2 linked regions of the Homo sapiens genome follow. The protein of the gene in region 1 purifies or fractionates together with the protein of each later gene. This does not show direct contact. Each region holds a gene or a part of one and is shown in the gene's direction. Other genes may lie near its edges.

What was found. Proteins that work in one complex are often made in the same cells at the same time.
Region 2: the proteins of HEATR5A (region 1) and GTF2H3 fractionate together in Homo sapiens (co-fractionation; one large-scale study listed by BioGRID). This does not show direct contact.

Annotation. Positions count from the first base shown.
Region 1 is NC_000014.9:31,291,551-31,295,392, reverse strand, and holds the end of HEATR5A (HEAT repeat-containing protein 5A), read left to right. Parts: intron 1-1,288; coding exon 1,289-1,502; intron 1,503-1,780; coding exon 1,781-2,088; 3' UTR 2,089-3,605; downstream 3,606-3,842.
Region 2 is NC_000012.12:123,640,168-123,644,009, forward strand, and holds part of GTF2H3 (general transcription factor IIH subunit 3), read left to right. Parts: intron 1-3,842. UniProt on the Homo sapiens protein: Component of the general transcription and DNA repair factor IIH (TFIIH) core complex, which is involved in general and transcription-coupled nucleotide excision repair (NER) of damaged DNA and, when complexed to CAK, in RNA transcription by RNA polymerase II.

The DNA of each region.
Region 1 (3,842 bases):
GGCCTGTAGTCCCAGCTGCTCTGGGGGACTGAGGCAGGAGGATCACTCGAGCCTGGGACCTTGAGGCTGCAGTGAGCCACGATCATGCCACTGCACCGCAGCCTGGATGACAGAGCCAGACGCTGTCTCAAAAAAAAGACTCCAGCACATACCTTCAGTAATATGAATGTGAAATAACAGGACCCATTCCAAAAGCAATACACACAAATTTATCCCATTCTTTTATGTCCCCTTCATTTGCTTGAGTAATGTCCTATTTTTTATGTGCCTCTAGGTGAGTTCATAGCCAATGATCACACATATATCTACTCCTGAAGATACAGGAACCAGATTTTCTCTCAGAAAAAATAATTATTAAAATACCATTACAGTTAACTCAATAAAAGTTTATTTATATCTTTGATGTATAGTCATTTCCTTTTATCGTCTGTCCTGTTGCCTGCTGCCTGCAGCAGCTTTGTATAGCAGTCTCCAAGTCGGGACTCTGATGCCTGATGACACATTAGTATGGTCCAGACGTTCCTTGAAACACTCAGACCATGACATTTGAACATCAAATACATCATTTTTGTCTAAAACATTTTCTGAAATCAACAAAATATCTTTCAAGGTTGTATGTGTTTTGTTTTGGGTGTTTTTTTGTTTTGTTTTGTTTTGCTTTCTACCCATAAAAATGTTAGGAGGTTGGGCACGGTGGCTCATGTCTGTAATCCCAGCACTTCGGGAGGCCAAGGCAGGTGGATCACTTGAGGTCAGGAGTTCGAGACCAGCCTGACCAACGAGGTGAAACCCCGTCTCTACTAAAAATACAAAAAATTAGCTGGGTGTGGAGGTGCACGCCTGTAGTCCCAGCGACTCGGGAGGTTGAAACAGGAGAATCACTTGAACACAGGAGGCAGAGGTTGCAGTGAGCTGAGATCACACCACTGCACTCCAGCCTGGGCACTCAAAAAAAAAAAAAAATGTTACAGGAGGGGTTTTGGTGGTGTTTTTGTTTTTTACATTATAGAGAAAGACATGAGGGGGAAAATGGGAATTAGAGAAAAGAAGAAAAATTAACACTCAGCTTTGCTTCCCTGTTTACCTATATGCCTCTTTCCCATTCCAAACTGTCACAACCACTGTTAGCATAGATGTTTGATTACCTGTTGGCCCTTGGACTTTCAAAATTAAACACAAATTAGAAATAAATTTAAATACCTTCACTACTTTAAAAAGCAAAGAGTCCTCAGGGACTTTTTAAAAATTTATTTATAGTATTTGCTATTCTTTTCTCTTACCTTATTAGGTACAAATCAAGACCTACCAGCTCCTACATTCCATCTTTCAGTATCCAAATCCAGCTGTTTCCTACCCATACATTTACTCTTTAGCATCCTGTATCATGGAAAAACTGCAGGAAATAGACAAGAGAAAACCTGAAAACACTGCTGAGCTTGAGATCTTCCAAGAAGGCATAAAGGTCTTAGAAACACTGGTTACTGTTGCTGAAGAACACCATCGTAAGTGTCAGCACTAAATTCATACTCAGTCTCAACAAAAATCAGAATTTTACTGTTATTTAAATTGCAAAACAATCAGTCACATTATATCTGTATTTCACATTCATTGAAAGGTGTTATGTTAATCCCAAGTATTGATATTATTTAGTATTAATTTAGAAGAGATTGGACGAATTGTTTTCTTTAGTGGGGAAAAATGTATACAGATCAAGTGCATTTGCAGGCTTTTGTTAGAAACATTTATGTCACTGAACTTATATTATTTGTTTACTTTCTAGGCGCTCAGCTGGTGGCCTGTCTTTTGCCCATCCTCATTTCCTTCCTTTTGGATGAAAATTCTCTGGGATCAGCAACTTCCATAATGAGAAATTTACATGACTTTGCTCTACAAAATCTCATGCAAATTGGACCTCAGTATTCATCTGTTTTTAAAAGTTTAGTGGCTTCTTCTCCAGCCCTAAAAGCCCGCCTTGAGGCTGCTATAAAGGGCAATCAGGAAAGTGTCAAAGTCAAGATACCAACATCTAAATATACTAAGAGTCCTGGAAAAAACTCAAGCATCCAATTAAAGACCAGTTTCCTCTGATTTTTTTTTTGGAATAGTAAGCACCTTAATATAATAAATACTTGATCATTGCCTTTGGTGACAAAAGGGACATTGTAGACACAAGTGCCCTTAGAGGTCTAGTTGATTGTTTTACCTTAAATAGCTGTGACTCTTCAAAGTAACAGCATACTTAACATTTTTGTGTGTGTGCGTGGGGTTTGTGTTTTGTTTTGTTTTGTTTTTCTATTTAAAAAGACAATGGAGCTAACTTGCCAGGAATTTTAAGAAAGTGCTAAAGAACTAAACTTACTAAACAATCCACTGCTTTAAAAATGAAATGAATTTCTTCTAACAGTCCATACATATGTGGTATACTTAATACTGTGACAGATATAAATATGACTCTAGTGTAAATTATCTGCACTAATATTGTATCCCAATTGCTGATTTAAAATTCTGCTTTGGCCCGGCACAGTGGCTCATCCCTGTAATTCCAGCACTTTGGAAGGCCAAGGCGGGCGGATCACGAAGTCGGGAGTTTGAGACCAGCCTGACCAACATGGTGAAACCCCGTCTCTACTAAAAATACAAAAATTAGCCGGGTGTGGTGGCACACACCTGTAATCCCAGCTACTCAGGAGGCCGAGGCAGGAAAATCGCTTGAACCTGGCAGGCAGAGGTTGCAGTGAGCCAAGATTGTGCCACTGCACTCCAGCCTGGGCGACAGAGTGAGACTCCATCTAAAAAAAAAAAAAAAAAATTCTGCCTTATTCAGTAATTGTATTAAACTTTCTCTGATTTCTCCAAGAAGATAAAATGATTGGAGAGCTATTTAGGAAACCTGGTCTAGGATTATCCAGTATACAATAGTACAAATTACTTACAGCCTTACAGTGCAACATAAGATTTGGTGTCTATATCATGGTTTTCCACCATCTTTTGGTTTAGTTTATATTGGGTTCAGAAATTGAGTCTTACTCATTTTAAATAGAATAAGCCATTTCCACTATTTTTCAAATGGATTTTTCTGTTTACCTCTGTTCTTACCAATTTTGTTCATTTTCATTTGTGGCAAACATTTGTATCAATGAGTTTTAACCTAGGTTCATATCTACATTGTATTTAGATCAACTATGGGTTTATATAAATGCCAAATTTAGTACAACAAATTTAGGTCATCAGGTGAATACAAGTATTTTTTTTAACAGGAAACATTTTATTATAGAAAAAAGATTAATGATAAAGTCATATTGGTTGAAAAATATTTTTTAACTGTGTTCATGATTGTTGATTCTCCTTCTACTTCAGTGTTATACTGTGTGAATCAAGCACTGTGTCAAAACAGAGCATTTCCCTCTTAAAAATTACAAACCGAAGTGATAGAAGCATGTCAGAATTGAGAAGACATTTTGAAGCAAGAACAATGTGATGTACCTATTTTATTATGTTTGTATATAAATACTATTGTAAATTGTTCAGAGTGAAAACATTTGACAAACTCTAACACTACAATCATTTTTTCTAAATTACATAAATAAAGCTAATTTTCATTATCATTCTTGTATTTTTAAATTATTTTACCAACAAAAGATGGCAGGTTGGTTTCTCTCACATGGATTCCAGAAAATCAGCCTTTTTTCTCAGAAGAGCCCTTTCTTTGGAGCATTATTTGTGATGGTTTAGATTCTCTGTCTCTTCCTAAGTGTCTCTAGGCATTGAGTGTATATTTATTGTTCCCTTTACCTAAAATGTCCTTTTCTCTCCTGTCTTCTGTCTGGTGATTGCCCACTCCT
Region 2 (3,842 bases), on another chromosome or scaffold:
ATGTTTGTTCGTTTGTAATCTGGTCCCACTCTCGACCACACCTTCTTTGCCTGTCTGTACTCCCAGGCAACTCTTGATCTCTTTGTGTCACTGTAGATTAGTTTGGATTTTCTAGATTTTTTTCATGTAAATGGAATCAAACAGGTTATAGTGGGGAGGTTTTTGTGGCCTTTTTTTTTTTTTTTTGAGACGGAGTTTTGCTCTTGTTGCCCAGGCTAGAGTGCAATGGCGCGATCTCGGCTCACTGCAACCTTTGCCTCCTGGGTTCAAGTGATTCTCCTTCCTCAGCCTTCCGAGTAGCTGGGATTACAGGCATCCGTCACCACGCCCAGCTAATTTTTTGTATTTTTAGTAGAGTTGGAGTTTCACCATGTTGGCCAGGCTGATCTCGAACTCCTAAACTCAGGTGATCTGCCTACCTCGGCCTCCCAAAGTACTGGGATTACAGGCATGAGCCACTGTGCCTGGCCTTGTCTGTTCTTTTTAATGACAGGTTAGCTGTTTTCCACTTTTAAATGGTTTAAAATAAAATCAGAAGAATAACATTTTTGTGACTTGAAAATTATATGAAATTCAAATTTCTGGGTCTATAAATAAGCCTCACTCATAAATTTATGTATTTTCTGTGGCAGCTTTTGCATTACAAAAGCAGAGGTGGGTAGCAATAAAGATTGCATGGCTCAAAAAGCCTAAAATATTTACTATCTGGCCCTTCACAAAACAAGTTTACTGACCTCTGGCCGATTGTGTGGTCTGTTCTGGAGAATGTTGCATGTCTACTTGAAAAGAATGTGCATTCTTTTGTTTCTAGTGAAGTGTTCTATAAATGTCTATTAGTTTAAGTTGCGTGATAGCGCACCTATAGTCCCAGCTACTTGAGGCGCTGAGGTGGGAGGATCACTGGTGCCCAGGCGGTTGAGTCTGCAGTGAGCCATAACTATGCCACTGCACTCCAGCCTGGGAGACAGAGCAAGACCCCGTCTCAAAAAATATAAAATAAAAAAATAAAAAAATTATCGAGAATGGAATATTGAAATGAAGTATTGTTGTTGAATTGTGTATTTCTTTTTTTTTTTTGAAATGGAGTTTCGCTCTGTCACCCAGGTCGGAGTGCAGTGGTGTGATCTCTGCTCACTGCAACCTCTGCCTCCCGGTTCAAGCGATTCTTCTGCCTCAGTCTCCCAAGTAGCTGGGACCACAGGCGTGTACCACCACGCCTGGCTAATTTTTGTATTGTTAGTAGAGACGGGGCTTCGCCATGTTGGCCAGGCTGATCTTGAACTCCTGACCTCAAGTGATCTGCCTGCCTCGACCTCCCAAAGTGCTGGGGTTACAGGCATGAGCCACGTGTCTGCCCCCGTTTTTTTTTTTGTGTGTTTTTTTTTTGAGACAGAGTCTCACTCTGTCACCCAGGCTGGATAGCAGTGCTAGGATTACAAGTGTGAGCCACCATGCCCATTTCCCCATATTTTGATAGCAGCAGTTAGTGTACTCACATTTAATATAATTATTAGTGTGGTTGCGTTCATATCTGCTATTTTGTTATTTGTTTTCTGTATGTATCATGAATTTTTTGGTTCTTTGTCCTCCTTTACTGTCTTTTGTGTTAAATAAATATTTTTTACGTACTATATTAATTCTTCTGTTGATTTGATTAATTCTTCTGTATATTTTTAGTTTTTTTGTTTGTTTGTTTGTTTTTTGAGATGGAGTTTTGCTCTTGTCGCCCAGGCTAGAGTGCAATGGCACGATCTCGGCTCCCTGCAACCTCCATCTCCCTGGTTCAAGCAATTCTCCTGCCTCAGCCTCCCGAGTAGCTGGGATCACAGGCGCGTGCCACCATACCTGGCTAATTTTTGTATTTTTGGTAGTGACAGGGTTTCACCATATTGGTCAGGCTGATCTCTAATTCCTGACCTCAAGTGATCCTCCCGCCTCGGCCTCCCAAAGTGCTAGGATTACAGGCATGAGCCACTGCACCCAGCCTTCAGTTATTTTCTTTTTCTTTTCTTTTTTTTTTTGAGACAGAGTCTAGTTTTGTCGCCCAGGCTGGAGTGCATTGACATGATTTTGGCTTACTGCAACCTCTCTCTCCCGAGTTCAAGCAATTCTCCTGCCTCAGCCTCCCGAGTAGCTGGTATTTCAGGCATGCACCACCACACCCAGCTAATTTTTGTATTTTCAGTAGAGACGGGGTTTCGCCGTGTTGGCCAGGCTGGTCTCGATCTCTTGACCTCGTGATCCGCCCACCTCAGCCTCCCAAAGTGTTGGGATTACAGGCATGAGCCACCACACCTGGTCAATCTCTTCTTACTTGTGATTCTATTTCCAAAAAAGATCATGTACACATGTACCAGAAGTTAGGACTTGAACATATCTTTTGGGGGGACATAATTCGACCCACAACAGTTGCTGTAGGGATTACTGTATGTATCTTATCATTGTGTACTTTAGATTAATACTCATTTAATTCCAGTAAAATATAGAGGCTTTGCTCCAATATAGATCCACTTCCACCCCTTCCCCATGTTCTTATTGTCATACATATTACACCTGCGCATGTTATAAATCTGATAACGCAGTGTTATAATTGTTACTTACACAGTTGCTTACACCAAGTATAAGCATCTTTTCTCTTGTTAACAAAAAATAAAAATATCAGACAATATTCATGTTAGAACTACACTCATTTTTCAGCTGAAACCATACTCTTTTTTCTTTTTTTGAGATGGCGTCTTGCTCTGTCGCCCAGGCTGGAGTGCAGTGGTGCAATCTCGGCTTACCGCAATCTCCACCTCCCGGGTTCAAGCAATTCTGCCTCAGCCTCCCGAGTAGCTGGGACTACAGGCACACGTCACCATGCCCAGCTAATTTTTTGTGTGTGTATTTTAGTAGAGATGGGGTTTCACCATGTTGCCCAGGCTGGTTGCAAACTCCTGAGCTCAGGCAGTCTGCCCGCCTTGGCCTCCCAAAGTGCTGGGATTACAGGTGTGAGCTACTACGCCCGGCCCAACCATACTCATTTTTCAATTAGCTATGGATACAAGAATTCAGCAAAAATCAACATAGGCATTCTGTGAGAATCCATTGACTTATGCAATTTACTATAAAGAGTATTGTGCATTTTACTGTTATTTGTAAATTGTGTGCTACATACTGCTGTATCAGTAATATTCGTATGTACTTGTGTACATGGGTACCTCGGTTTTGGGGAGCGAATGGTTAAACATCCGCCAGCACATCACTGCATGCTGCCCTGTTACTCCAGAAAGGCTGCGTTTGCACTCATCAGTGCTGTATGAGAGTTCCTTTTTTCTTGTACCAACACAAAATGTTCATTCTCCTTATTTCATCTTTTGTCAATATGAGGCAAAAAACAACGTAATCTCAATTTGCTTCCAGTGTATTTCGTGGCCATTTGTATTTCTCTCTTGGGACATCACCCACTTCTTTCTTTGGATATTCATAGTGTGTGGTTTTTTTTAAATTAATGATTTATGGACAGTCTTTTATATTAAAGGATTAACCCATTACTTGCCATGTGTTGCAACTGGTTTTTTCCAGTTTGTAACTTGTTTTCTTTCACTTTTATTTATATTGTCACTTTTCGCCAATTAGAAATTTTAATAGATTTAAGTTTTTTTTCCAGTAGGGTGAAATTTACCAGTGTGTTGGTCTATTTTTTGAGATGGAGTCTTTGTCACCCAGGCTAGAGTGCAGTGGCACGATCTCAGCTCACTGCAGCCTCCACCTCCTGGGCTCAAGCAGTCCTCCCACCTCAGCATCCCGAGAAGCTGGGACTGCAGGCACGTGCCAACACGCCCAGCTAATTTTTGTATTTT